2 separate regions of the Homo sapiens genome follow, and region 2 is linked to region 1. A link means that fine-mapping ties the variant in region 1 to the expression of a gene that starts in the linked region. Tissue or cell type: skeletal muscle. Region 1 holds a variant in brackets; the other region holds the start of a gene. All regions are shown on one strand. Distances are between the middles of the regions.

Region 1 (7,384 bases):
CAAAGGCTGTTCTCCGGAGAGGTGTTCACCTGAAGGCTGTTCTCCTGAAGGCTGCTCACCTACAGTATGCTCACCTTCAGCATGTTCAGTCGCAGCGGGCTCACCTGAAGCATGCTCACTCTCAGCATGTTCTCCAGAAGTGTGCTCGGCCACAGTGTGCTTGCTTGAACCATGCTCACTGGAACCATGCTCACTTAAAGTGTTCAGGCCTGAAGAAGTCTCATATAAAGCCTCAGCATCAGAAGGGTTTTCAAGTGAAAAGAACTCACCTGGAAGTTGCTGAACTGAAGTTTGATGATCTATGGAGCCAGAAAGCTCATTAGGCTGACTTGATGTTCCTGGGATGGAGAAGGAACAGAAGAGAGTTGGTGAAGCTGACAGAATGGGATAAAGACTATCTTCCTATGGAGTTAGGCTAATGTTATGAGACTCCTAGGTTTCCTATGGGCCTAGATTGGGCACCTGAAGACTGCAGATGTTGGGAAAAATCAACTAAGTATCCCAAAAGGCCATGGAGGACAGAAGTGTTTAGTGAAACAAACAGAGGCCACCTCTGGGATTGAAGGGAAGAATCTTAAGTTCCCCAATATTAAGAACTACTTAGGAGAATCCACTCATCCATGTACAAAAAACCCCTGAAGGAAAATGAATGTGCCTCCCTGACAAAGTCAGCATCAGGAAGTCAGGATACCATCCCTGATAGAATCAGAAGTTCGCCACCAACCCTCCCATTCCTCTATGGGTGAAAGACAAGAAGAGTAGAGATAGAAGAGGGAGAGAGAAAGCAAGTAGTTTTCAATACCTGAGTATTTGTAACCTAAATTAAGGGCGGAAGAGTTAACCTTTGGACAGGGATGACAAGTATGAGCCCACAAAAATTATCAGAAGGGATTAAGCCGCCTGTATTTGGTAATGTCAAGTATTTTCTCACACTCAATCCCCAATCCATGTGGGTTGGGGATTCAGAGAGCAAAGTTGCTATAAGCTATTAAGGTAAAAAAAAAAAAGTCTAGGCATATTATATATATATATATATATAGACACACACACATATATGAATTGTATCCTTGTGACATACCATTTACATTCACTTCATGGAGTTGTCCTGAGTACTTAATAAGATAAATTGTGAAGTGCACCATTGCCTAGTACTCAATTTTATTTTTCTTTTCTTCCCACCTTACACTGGGAATTACAAAACTCTTACATGGTTATTTTTTTCTGGCCAGTCTCTTCTACCTTTAATCCGTCTCTTTCTTTTTTTTTTTTTGTTTCAAAGATAGAGTCTCGCTCTGTTGCCCAGGCTGGAGTACAGTGGCACAATCTTGGCTCACTGCAACCTCCGCCTCCCGGGTTCAAGTGATCCTCCTGCCTCTGCCTCCCGAGTAGCTGGGATTACAGGTGCATGCCACCATACCTGGCTAATTTTTGTATTTTTAGTAGAGACAGGGTCTCGCCATGTTGGCCAGGCTGGTCTTGAACTCCTGACCTCAAGTGATCCGCCCGCCTCAGCCTCCCAAAATGCTGGGATTACAGGCATGAGCCACTGTGTCTGGCCAATCCATCTCATCATTGACTGTCAGACAAATATTCCTTAAGTATATTTTAAGTGAACAGAAGCACAAAACAGATAATTTGATTATTACTCTTTGATTAAACTGAGCCACCTAGAGGAAGACAAGTAGACTACAACAACCAAGTTATTTAATTCTAGCCAAAAGCTGAGAGGAATTATTGGATCTTTGAGGCTGAGGTAGTCTAAAACCCCAGAGTACTCAAAACTCTAAGAATCTTGCGATAGATATATTTTCTTGGCACAGTGCAGTACTTACAATCAGTGACTTTCTAAATGACTAGGGTGAGAATATGTTGATAAAGGAAAGGTAAGATTTAGTAAAGCTTTTAGGAGGTTTTTATTTTTTAAACTTATTACATAAATACTATCTACTTGACTGGTTTTTCAATAATTAACACAAGTTTTGATAAAGAGATGTTTCTGATATAGAAAGGAGACATAAAAAGCATGCTAATTTCTTGATCTTATAGTTTATGACTCGTGTCACCATGTGACTGGCACATACTATCACCTGGTGGCTGTGTATCTACATTTTTGAGTCAACTTTTGAAGGTCTAACAAAGCAAAAAGCAAAACCTCTGACAGTCGACATTATAGAAAATACATTGTTTTTTCACTGAAAGCTCAGAGCTCATGGCCTCTTTCTGCTGTAGGAGGCAGGAGGGAACACAGCACACCATGAATGGGGGATCCCAAAAGAAGAGATGATACAGAAAACCTGATTGATATAACACAGCCATGAAGAAGAGGCTTATGAAGTCTCTGGCCTATAGCTCTGTCGTGTTCTGAGGTTGTTTTCTGAACACATTACATCTTCCCATCTCCCATCTTTCCTTGGCACATTAACCACACAAGGATCCCTCACATTTAATTGGTGGGACAAACCTTCATTGGGCTTCTACAGAACCCCTAAGCCTACTTTTTCATCTCATGCAGCATCAGGTATAAATGTTGAGTGGCTAAAATAAGTAGAAACCAGACTGTGCCAAGCCAGTGGGACCCTCTGACTGTAAAGCTATGACTAGAGAAATCAACTGGTTCAGGAGCTCTCCGAGTTGGACTTGTTTAGCTGCTCTTGATTCTGACTCAGATTGGTTTGGGTGACTGAGAGACTGGTCTTCCTTCTTCAAGGCCTGAAATGTCTTAAGGGAGACCCCTTTTGTATTTACCTGAAGCCTAGATCAAACACTCACCTCTGGCAGATCCAAGCAGATAAAGACTCATTAGCAAGAGAAACCTGTTCATCTGGATTTAGGAAAAGAGGGGACCCCAGTGTGGGCCACAGCTTCTTCACAGAGCTATGAAGCAAACTGCGAGCAAAAGCTTCCAGTGCTGAAGCAGAGCTTCTGGGAATTCTAGAACCTCAGAAGTAACCCATGTTTCTTCACAATGGGTTGGGCTCTGAGGTTCTTGTGTAGCCTGTTCAGGCAAGTTGGCCCTTAGCAACCCACTGCTTATTTCACTAGTGAAGACCAATGATTATTTTCTGTGTGCAGGGTAGTGTGTTGGGGCTATCTGCCCTATCTT[T/TA]AAAAAAAAAAAAAAAGTATTACCAAAAAGCACATATTTTTTGTAATAAAGTTTAAAAGATATCTACTGTCTTTTAAAAGTGTTTTTGACAATGAGATGTAATTGTTGATTGTTTTCTGTTTGGCTTTCTAAATCAGCCTTTCTTGGCTCTGATCTGTACCCTGGAAGGTTGACCTCTGTTGACTTTATCACCTGAATGCTGGCTGGATTTGGCTTCAGATTGGGTTTATACAGGATTGGAGGGGAGAAGAGAGAAAGAGAGAGAGGAAGAGGGAAGGGAGGAATGGGGAGAAAGAGAGCGAGACTGGAATATTTGTTCTTCCTATTCCCTTCCTGCCACAGTTGACACTGGCTGAGTCTACATGACAGAGCTTCTGTTGGGTGTCCTCTCTTCCATGGCTCCAGCTCTCATCCATGCTATGGTAATATGTTTTTCTCCCCCTGCCCTCTTAGGCCTAGGGATGATAATGGTTTCCTGCTGTTACTAAAATCTGGATGCCCAAACTTATCTCTTTTTTTGTTTGTTTGTTTCCTTAACCTTGCCCACTTCTGTAAATAGTCTTTTCATACAGACCTTTATCAACATGGTTTTAGCAGGAAACAGGTGGCAAACTCAAATGGGTAACTGAGGAGAGTTTACACAGATATGGGCAGAGTAAAGAGATCAAGAGACAGTAGAAAGCTGCGTTTTGAGCTGCAACTTGGTAGCAAGGGGGTGGCCAAGCTGAGAAGATGGATGCAGTGAGGCATCCACCTGATATAAAACTAGAACTTATGGAGGATTGAGTGGCAAAGATCTGGTAGCTTCCATTTCTCGCTGCTTCTCTGCTCAGCTCTCTTGAACAACTTTGTTTTATATACCACTGAATGCTAAATCTAGAATAGATGTACTTATTGTTACATTTTGAAAGGAAGGTGAGGGTTAAAGAAAGAGAGAGTGGCGGCTCTACATCAAATCCAGGCTTTCTGTCTAGCATAAGACCTACAGAGGTGGGGGACTAGCTTAATGCCAGTGCCCACTGCTTCGTACAGGTTGGGGTACTTGTAGGTATGAGCAGGACGGGTCTGGGCAGTATGGCTTGCTGCCTGGGAAGATGTTCCCATAATGAGGCATTTTGGCCCTTGTTCCCGCAGAATGTGATGCTGATGTTCCTTGGACTTTTTCCCAGCAGAGTGTGATAAAGTCAGGGAGGCAGTTGGACAGGCTGTTTCTAAGGGCCCAAACCCCCGTGGAATGCTTCACTTTAGCCAAGGTCTGCAAAATGGCGGGGGTCGGTGGGGGTTACGAAATGGTGCAGTTTGGACTAACACTTTATCACTGTTATAATTATTTGTTTCATGTTTGTACTCCCCGTTGGACTCTAAGCTTGAATGCAGAGACCCTGTCTTGACTATTGTTGTAGTCCCAGTACCTAGCAGCATGCCTAAGCTTTTCCTGAAGGAAGGAAGGAATGAGTTACCTTTTGGGGCCTCTCTCTGCCTCATAGAGGAGAATTTATAGAGAATCATGTAAGAGAATCTATAGAAGAGAATCTGGATTAAGGTTCTGGGTTAGTTGAAGACAGCAAGATCACCAGGGATCAAAAGTTACTTGACTTGAGTTAGAGGATAAAGCTAGGATTTCTGAGCCTCAGGCAGGTTCCTTTACAGTAGAGAAAGGTATGAAAGAGCATGCTATCAATAATTCTTTTCCTCCAGGATGAGTTTGGAAGAACAGCTATGAGCCTTGGGTCTGACTTTTGTTGATAGAAGCAGTGGAAATTAGTAGAAGGGAAGAGGTGCTATCTATTCCACCCTAACTTAGAACATAGAAAGACAGACAGTGGGCTCTGGAGAGCTGATGCTTTCAGCTGAAAACAATTGTTTTTAAAAATTCCCTATGTAAATTTGCTTCAAAATAACCTAAATGAGGGATTGTAGCAATGAACGGGGAAAGAAGATAAAATAAGACTGGACACAGTGGCTTGTGCCTGTGATCCTAGCACTTTGGAAGGCTGAGGCGAGCAGATCACCTGAGGTCAGGAGTTCAAGACCAGCCTGGCCAACATGGTGAAACCCCATCTCTACTAAAAATACAAAAAAATTAGTCGGGCATGGTGGCGGGCACCTGCAATTCCAGCTACTTGGGAGGCGAAGGCAGGAGAATCGCTTGAACCTGGGAGGTGGAGGTTTCAGTGAGCTGAGACTGTGCCATTGCATTCCAGCCTGGGCAACAAGAAAGAAACTCTGTCTCAAAAAAAAAAAAAAGAAGATAAAATAAGATTGGTCCTGTGTGCATGATTGTTGAAGCTGTGTGATGGGTACATGCGGGTACTCTCTACTTTTGTATATGTTTGAAACTTTCTATACTGAAAATCTTCAGGGTGGAGGGCAGAAATACCTATTTGGAAAGCCTAGATAATCAATGCCTTATTTAAAATAGCTTCAGGGGATGATGGAGAAGTCTTTTTAATATGTGTGTGCATTAAGACCTAGATAGGAGCTTAACTGCTCCCTATTATACAACTATCCTACACCCAGGGCTGGCTTCCTGAGCAGGCGCATGGGCCCACACTCAAAAGGGCCCTGGTTTCTTGCTTTGCTTTCAATCTCTGGAAATTCTTCGTCACTTTCTAACAAAGGCGCCTCATTTTTGCGTTGCACTGGGTCCCACAAGTGCTGTCTCCAGTCCTGCCTAGATCTCATTTTCCAGTCCCCTTAGGTATATCACCGTCTGGTATTGGAAAGCTTTGGCCTCTGAAACCAGGTTGAGGAAGCTTTCTTTTAGGAAGAGCTGGGGCACACCTAAGTCCAGGCTGCTGGCTTCAAGCAGACATTCCTCCCCTTCTTGCACTCTTCCCTACTTGATAAATATGTTCCCATATAAGTTTGTTGTGCTCTGATTTTTAGTAGAAGCCTTCTCAGAAACATCCCTTCCAACCTCTCCCTCTACTCCTTAGATTTCCTCAGGTTTGATGCTTTGCTAGAAGGACTTACAGAACTCAGGAAAGTGCTTTACTTATATTTACCAGATTATTCTAGAGGACACAGCACAGTAACAGCCACATGGAAGAAATACATAGGAAAGGTATGTGGCGGCAGGTGGGGCGGGGAGGTGGTTGGGTGCAGAGCTTCCGTGGCCTCTGTGGGTGGGCCATTCTCCCAGCACATCAGTGTGTTCATCAACCCAGATGGTCTCTGAATCCTGTTTAGAGGGTTTTATGGAGGCTTCATTACATAGGCAAAATTGATTAAATCATTGGCCATTTGTGGAGCTGAACTTCTCAACCCTTGAATCATGGGATTGGTTTCTCTGATGACCAACCCGTACCCTGAAGCTACCTAGGCCCACTTCATGAATCATCTCATTAGCATAAAAAGACAGTTCCAAGGGTATTAGGATCCCTGTGCCAGGAACCAGGAGCAAGGACCAAATAGATATTTTTATGATGTCACAAAGAAATTCCCAGGATTGCCATGAAGGAAGGCCTCAGCATGATTGCTGTGCAGCTGGGGTGGAGACAACCCTCCCAGATAAGGGCAGGAGAATGAATGGCCCAAAGTGGAAGTCTCCAGAGAAATAATAATATATTATCTGATAGCTCCGATGACAGCCATGTACAAATGTGTACTGAGAAGCTCTTGGAAGGTGGGGAAGCTTAGCCAGAAGCATAAAATTAATTGAGCAAATGATAATGTAATTATTATTTGTAGGAAAAAGAATATAAAATCATGTAATAAAAAATGTCATCCTAGTACTCATTTTATTTCACTTGTGAATACTATTTAAATATCTACCAGTCAGGGCCCACTTGCAGGACACAGGAGCTTGTCTGGTGAGTTACCTTCAGCAGAAAGGTATTAGGTTGGTGCAAAAGTAATTGCAGTTTTTGCCATTCTTTTTTCTTTTTTTTTTTAATGGCTGCCACCTCTATCACAATCAGGAAAGTCACTGTAGAGTGTCAGGCAGCTTCCACAGGAACTGTTGGCTTCAGGAGGGCACCACTGTGTGAGCCAGGAATCAGGAGTGGGCTGCCACTAGGACTTGTAGCTGTATATGCACTCCACGCATGCTAGACGGGCATTGGCAAGACATGGTGTCTTGTTCCTCTTCTCTCACTATCATAAAGCTGGTACCTGGATGTAGAATGCTGCTTCTGCAAAAACAACCAACAAAATAAAACACAAAACACCTCACAAAATTCCAACATATTCTCAAACATCGGAAAACTATAGACATAGCAGAAAGATTGTAATACCTAACCTTGTTTTAAGACTCTCCCTTAGCTACCTAACCTTGTT
Region 2 (7,384 bases), 110 kb before region 1:
CAAACCTGGTTGGAGTTTTTTTTTCTTAATAGGAAGGCATGGAATTTTTTTTTAAATCAGCTACAACAGCTACTCAGGAGGCTGAGGCAAGAGGATTGCTTAGGCCCAGGAGGTCAAGGCTTCAGTGAGCCATGATCATGCCACTGTACTCCAGCCTGAGTGTCAGAGTGAGACTCTATCTCAAAAACAAAAAAAAATAGTGATAATTTTTCATTACAACACTTAAATTGTTGTTGAAATAATAAATATAAAAGGCTTGGTATAGTAGATGCTTAATAAATCATAGTATCTCTCTCTCCTAGAAGATTCCAAGGCTGGAAGCTAGGAGATCTGGCCCCTAATGATGCAGGATTTTTCTTGGCCCCTTTGACAAACTCATGGAAGGGGGCGCCTTGTCTACCAGGCCCACCACAATCAACCACTTGCAGGAGGGAGCACATGAGCAAGCAAGTTCAAGATCCAGCCAGCCACTCTGGGCACTGGCACAGGAGCAAGCTCTGTGTGGGGCCTGTGGCCAGACCAGGCATGTTGCCTCAAGAGGAACACTGCAGTGCCCAGGTGAAAGTGCCCATGACCCTGAAGCCTCAGAGCGGGTGTTACAGTGCTCCTTTAGTTTCATCATCCACAAACAGCAGTGTGTTAGTAGCTCAGTTGGCCCTTTGCCTTGTCACGTGGGGCAGCTGCCTTCCACTGGTGGGGGCAAAGGACCAGTGTGACAGCCTTTCTGGGTACCTGTACTTGGTGGGTCCCAAGCTCTTGTCCAGTGTCCAAGAAGAATGAGGTCACATGCAGGATTGAAGGATGGCGGGCCAGGTGCGGTGGCTCACGCCAGTAATCTCAACACTTTGAGAGCCTGAGGTGGGTGGATCACCTGAGGTCAGGAGTTTGAGATCAGCCTGGCCAACATGGTGAAACCCCATCTCTACTAAAAATACAAAAACTTAGCTGGGCGTGGTGGCAGGTGCCTATAATCCCAGCTACTTAGGAGGCTGAGGCAGGAGAATTGCTTGAACCCAGGAGGCATAGGTTGCAGTGAGCTGAGATTGCACCATTGCACTCCAGCCTGGGTGACAGAGCAAGACTCTGTCTCAAAAAAAAAAACAAAGAAAAAAACAAAGAAGGATGTTGAGGGCAGAGAATTTTTTTTAGTGATGAAAACGAGTCTCAGCAGTGAGGGGAGCTGGAGAAGGGACAGGAAGGGCAGGTCGTCTTCCTCAAAGTCAGGCGGTCTCCCACTCTACTGACTAAGTCAGGGGTCCTTATAGGCACAGGATGGGGAGTATGTGCAGATTGGTTTGTGGCTATGCAAGAAAGGTTAAAGCAAAGGCACCACTCAAAGGTGGGCACAACAGTGTAGAAAACCAATCAGGAAAGGGTAGGTATATGTAAAATAGGTGAAGGGTGGGGATCAATCAGAGGAAAACATGCAAGACAGGAAGACAAGTTCTCAATCTGGTCTGAGGACTTAACTTGTAGCTTGGCTTTCGAGCTTTAAACTGTTTTTGGCTTGGAGGTGGGGTTTCAATGGGGACCCGCCACTAACTGCCTAGGCATTTGGCTGTCTCCTGTCGCTATCACTAGATCTAGTATTGTTATCATTTCACTAAATCATATATCCATACAGTTAAAAAACACCTTCATATATATACCATTTATTTCAGCAGCCTGTGTTAAAGAAACTAAGGTTTGGGCCAGGCGTGCTGGCTCACACCTGTAATCCCAGCACTTTGGGAGGCCAAGGCGGGTGGATCACGAGGTCAGAAGATCGAGACCATCCTGGCTAACATGGTGAAACCCCGTCTCTACTAAAAATACAAAAAATTAGCCGGGCGTGGTGGCGGGCACCTGTAGTCCCAGCTACTTGGGAGGCTGAGACAGGAGAATGGTGTGAACCCGGGAGGTGGAGCTTGCAGTGAGCCAAGATAGAGAGACACTGTCTCAAAAAAAAAAAAAAAAAAAAAAAGAAACTAAGGTTCACAGCTTAACTGGAGGTCATGTCTTCTCAAAGTGCTCTGCCACAAACTTCCTCATTTGTGAAATTTGGAAAATAATATCCTCTACTTGTCCACAAATAGCATCTAATCATACATAAGCATGTGAGAGCTCTTTAAAAATGCAAGGTATTAATTATTATTGGTTTTTATTTTAAATGTGGTTATACATGTTGAGATTTAAAAGATTTCCTCCCGGCCAGGCGCAGTGGCTCACGCCTGTAATCCCAGCACTTTGGGAGGCTGTAGGTGGGCGGACCACGAGGTCAGGAGATCGAGACCATCCTGGCTAACACGGTGAAACCCCGTCTCTACTAAAAATACAAAAAAATTAGCCATGCTTGGTGGCAGGTGCCTGTAGTCCCAGCTACTCAGGAGGCTGAGGCAGGAGAATGGCGTGAACCCAGGGGGCGGAGCTTGCAGTGAGCCGAGATCGCACCACTGCACTCCAGCCTGGGAGACAAAGACAGACTCAGTCTCAAAAAAAAAAAAAAAAAAAGATTTCCTCCCATGAAGTAAGCCAGAATAAACTCATACCTACTAAATTCTTTCTAAAATCTTTTCTAAATTGACACTCTTGAGAAAGAATAGAGCTTGGAGGAAGAGCTATTATTATAATTAATAGCACAATAATCAGTTTGTCATTAAACCACTTAGGTCTCTTTGTAACAAGATTTCTAAGCTTTAGTAGATGGATTCCTTATTCTATTCTATTTTATATTGTTTTGTTTTGTTTTATTTTATTTTATTTTTCGAGACAGTCTAGCTGTGTCACCCAGGCTGAAGTGCAGTAGTGCGATCTCGGCTCACCGCAACCTCTGCCTCCTGAATTGAAGTGATTCTCATTCCTTAGCCGACCAAGTAGCTGGGACCACAGGTGTGTGCCACCATGCCCAGCTAATTTTTTGTATTTTTAGTAGAGACGGGATTTCACCATCTTGGCCAGGGTGGCCTCAAGTGATCTGCCCGCCTCAGCTTCCCAAAGTGCTGAGGTTACACGCATGAGCCACCGTGCCCAGCCACTTATTTTATTTCATTTTTTAAATTTATTATTATTATTATTATTTTGAGACTGAGTCTTGCTCAGTCGCCCAGGCAGGAGTGCAGTGGTGTGATCTCGGCTCACTGCAACCTTCATCCCCTGAGTTCAAGTAATTCTCCTGCCTCAGCCTCCTGAGTAGCTGGGACCACAGGCAGGTACCACCACACCTGGCTAATTTTTGTTATTTTAGTAGAGATGGGGTTTCGCTATGTTGGCCAGGCTGGTCTTGAACTCCTGACCTCGTGATCTGCCTGCCTTGGCCTCCCAAAATGCTGGGATTAAAGGCATCCTGTTACTAATTTCACAGGATTTTAGAAACGCAAGCAGCGTTGTGGAGTCAATGGGGGAGGGCAAAGAACAGGAGGAGAGATCTGTGAGAACGGGATCGGCGAGGAGGCGACGGGGAGGAGGCGACGCGGAGGGGTGAGGGGTCCTCTCCGCCGCCAGGCGGAGTTGGGAGCCGGACGATCCCGCACGCAGCGCGAGGCGGGACCCCGGACTGACTACATTTCCCAGTCTCCGTCGCTCCGCGCGGCCCACCCCTTCGGCTCTGGGCCCCGCCTCGTGGTGCCGGCTGGTTCTTCGCGCTCGCCCGACTTCCCAGCGGCCCCGTGCGGCCCGGGCATGCCCAGTGCGGGCGCAGCGGCCCCGGCCCTGGAAGCGCCCCGGCGGAGCTGGCCTGCGGTGGGCTAGGGGCAGGGCCGGAGCCGCGGCGGCGGAGCTGTGGGTAGGTGCGGGCTCAGCCGAGCTAGGCCTCGGGGCCGCCGCGCCGCCCATTCTGAGTGGCAGGGACCGGGAGGGCAGGCAGGGCCCGAGCGTGGGTTGGTGGGGCTACCGGCGAGGACCCCTTATGGGAAGGGGCCGGAGGGAGCGGGACGGGGCCGGGCACATCCCCGGGCGAGGCTGCCCCAGGTGCGGCGCAGCTATCTTTAGCTCCCTGTGTGACCCGGAGCGTGCGTGATCCGCACCTCGCGTGATCCGTACCTCGTGCACAGTTGTGCCTAGGGAGACCAGTTTTCTGCCGAATTGCCTAGGAGCTGTGGGGAGATGGGCCTGAATGGACCCGTGGACTCAGAGGCAGCCCGTGGAGCCCCGTGGGAAGTGAGGATGTTTACCTTCCCTGTACCTGGAGTGGGCTACGACAGCTTCCTGTTTGCCGAGACTTGGGTTTAGTGACTTAGAAATAAAAGTGTGTCTCAGCAGATGCTTATTAGCTTCTAATGACTGTTGGGAATTTAATGGCATTTGTATTTCCAGGTTTGAGAGGTTATTTGTCCATGGGATGCTCGTGTTAAAACAAAAATCTTCATTGCAAAGCTTAAGTAAAAACAAGTCTCGACCGAGGTAACGTTAGAACACCGGGTTCTGAGGTTCACTGTAGCTGCCATTCATTTGCTGTCAGTCTGGGCAAGTCATTTAACTTCTGAGACTGGGTTCTCTCACCTGTTAAATGAGCCAGATGCATCTTCATCTGTCTAGCTCAGCTGTAGGATTCCCCCTGTGTCATTCAGTCTGTGTGTGTGTTCTCAAATTGTGGCAGGTTATTTTTCCCCATGCCTCAGCTATTTGTCAGACTGGGTAATTCACCAAATATTCCTGTAGGAAGGATGTTAGGATCTAAGTATAAAAGTGAAGTGATTTATCCTTCATAGGTCACTCTTAGGAGGTGTCCTGCCACTTGGTACATGCAGAAACCAGGTGTTAGCTGGCCAGGGATCAAATGACACAGCTGTTGTGGACTGAGACAGAATGTTTCAGGTTCCCTGTCAGTTCCCTGTGAGAAATCCAGGCCAAGTAATGGGCTTCCTTAAACCTCCAAGCTGGCTCACTTTGGTGGGGTTGTGTTTATATAGAATTTTAAGTTTTTTTCATGCTGTTGTGCCCTATTAGATGCAAGAAACCTATGAAGAAGTTTAGTACCCTTAATTTATAGATGAGCCAGTGGCAGGTTACGGGAGTGGATCTGTGAGTCTTTACAAACTAGTGTCGTGCATATCACTGAGCCTTTGCTAGTTATCTAGCTCAGCTGCCCTCACCTCAACCCTGAGAACATGTCTGTATGGCTGTACCTACGCGACTGGAACTCTGAGGTGTTTGTTTTCAGGAGGAAACAGTGGGAGTATTAACAGAAGTTTCTTACCCTAGAGACTTCTATCCGAAGTGAGCCTATCTGTGTAGGATTTGACCTAAGGAGCAGAGGGTATATACAATGTTGGGCAAATTGCCTTCCTACTGCCATATCCCCTGCTCTTCCAGTTCTGAATGGCATTAGTCCAGTTGGGTCAATGAGGAGCAGTTTGGTGAAGTGGTTAAAGGTCGGGGAAAGTGTGCTTATATTTTGAAATTTAAGGTTTGTACAAGCTGCTTGTGAAATTCTGTCTTTGTATTATGGTCATACCTCTTAAACTGAGAATACTGCAACTTGATTGAGTGAGTGTTGAGAACTTTAGAATATCAGGTTCTTAAAAAATGCCTGAAAGTGGGTTTTCTATTCATCTTAGAAGTCACCACAGATTAAATGAGAGAATAGTATATTAATTACAAGTATTTCTCACATGAACTCTCAAGTTCTTAATTTTTGAAACTAGATATCCCATTCACCTGAGAAATAAAATGGGAAAGCCTTACTGTTTTAAAGACTGTTTATACATATGAACTTTTTTGAGGCCTAGTTTAAAATCCACTATTTATTGCATGTTTATTAAAATTGTATCTGTATATATTTAAAGTTAGAAAACAGAAAAGACCAGCCGGGCGTGGTGGCTCATGCCTGTAATCCTAGCACTTTGGGAGGCTGAGATGGATGGATCACCTGAGATCAGGAGTTTGAGATCAGCCTGGCCAACATGGCGAAACCCCATCTCTACTAAAAATACACAAAATTAGCTGGGCGTGGTGGCGGGTTCCTGTAATCTCAGCTACTCGGGAGGCTGAGGCAAGAGAATCACTTGAACCTGGGAGGTGGAGGTTGCAGTGAGCCGAGCCCAGTGTTGCACTCCAGCCTGGGCAACAAGAGCGAGACTCTGTCTCAAAAAATAAAATAAAATAAAAAAGACCTATTTGGAGGTTTTGGTACGCAATTTCATGTCATACCTTAAACTTTACTGTGCCCGAGGGCTCTGTATGACTGAAGCATGTATTTAGTAATTTTTGTAAGAACTTTTATCTTGCTCTTGTATTTTCATTCAAGTATTTGAAGGTATCCAGCAAACATAAAAATTGCTTAAGAAGATATTGAAATGTAATTATCTTCCATCTCCAAACCCTCAAAAGTGCTTAGAATGTGTAGGAGGGATAGTTAGGGGCATTGAGGCTCAGAGGAGGTTACTGGTCAAGAGCACATTGTAAAAATGTAAAATGTAAAAATGAGAGGGTGTAAAATGTAAAACCCCTTGTAAAAATGAAAGGGTGGTGAGTGTTTTAGAAAAAAAATAGGGATTTTAGGTTTCAGCTGTACAGGAATAGCTTCACTTGATTCACTCTATTAGTGCTAGAATCTACTGCTATCTTACTAGAGCTACAAGTATGTGAGGTCATCATGTGGAAATGTGCATGAAGTAACTTATCTTTAAAATAAATATTTGCCTCCATTATGTTCCATCTGTTTCCAGATCCTTCATGATGAGAGATTTGGGGACACTTCTCTCTCCTGTGTGTAGTTGATAGTTTGGTGGTGAAGAGATGGCTGACAGTGTCAAAACCTTTCTCCAGGACCTTGCCAGAGTGAGTACATCTTGTTTATAGGAATTCATCTCTCGGCCTTTTTTTTTTTTGCTGAAGGAACCATCTAGGAAATCCTTTAGGGTTTTTGGAACTTTTATCATATTTCTTGGGTTCTTTACATAAAGGTTGTTATTCTAGACCACACTACTCAAGAAATAGGTATTGTTCTACATCTTGCAGACAGTCTTGCAGGTGCTTGGAAGACCTCTTCGGTGGATGTCTCCAGTATTGGGACCCTAATCATCTTGGCTTCAGAGCTTTTTTTTTTTTTTTTTTTAACTTTTTATTTTGGAATGTGTTTAGATTTACAGAAAAGTTATAAGGTAGTACAGAGAGTTCCTGTATGTCCTTCATCAGCTTCCCTTAATGTTAACATATAACCGTGGTATATTTGTCAACTAAGAAATGAACATTGGTTCAGTACTATCACCTAAACTAATTAATTCAGATTTAAATTAGAGAACCTATCTTTTTTTTTTCCCAATTTTTCATTTATTTAAAAATTTTTCTGTTAAAAGTAGAGACGAAGTTTTGGCATGTTGCCCAGGCTGGTCTCAAACTCCTGGGCTCAAGTGATCCACCCGCCTTGTCCTCCCAAAGTGCCGGGATTATAGGAGTGAGCCACTGC

Alleles and levels. Alleles are on the strand shown, and positions count from the first base shown. SD is a standard deviation of normalised expression in the study named.
For the expression in skeletal muscle of the gene that starts at base 3,664 in region 2, T is the low allele of the variant in region 1 and TA is the other (moderate effect, 0.47 SD a copy in FUSION).

Evidence for each region. PIP is the estimated chance that this variant, and not a neighbour inherited with it, causes the effect.
Region 2: EI24 starts here. The variant in region 1 is the best candidate, but not a certain one, in a credible set for the expression of EI24 in skeletal muscle (FUSION, PIP 0.58).

Annotation. Positions count from the first base shown.
Region 1 is chr11:125,677,960-125,685,343 of GRCh38, forward strand. ACRV1 (acrosomal vesicle protein 1) reads right to left here and starts at 2,888. Exons shown (of 4, transcript NM_001612.6): 1 at 2,770-2,888; 2 at 1-338. The coding sequence starts at 2,821. It overlaps LOC105369551 (a long non-coding RNA gene), which reads left to right and starts at 5,360. Exons shown (of 2, transcript XR_007062934.1): 1 at 5,360-6,170. It also overlaps a transcript of CHEK1 not described here. The variant T/TA (reference allele first, on the strand shown) is at 3,104.
Region 2 is chr11:125,565,814-125,573,197 of GRCh38, forward strand. EI24 (EI24 autophagy associated transmembrane protein) reads left to right here and starts at 3,664. Exons shown (of 11, transcript NM_004879.5): 1 at 3,664-3,760; 2 at 6,645-6,756. The coding sequence starts at 6,715. STT3A-AS1 (STT3A antisense RNA 1) reads right to left here. Exons shown (of 4, transcript NR_132372.1): 3 at 4,477-4,629; 4 at 2,295-2,305. RefSeq lists enhancers at 3,328-3,829, 4,332-4,381 and a silencer at 3,332-3,891.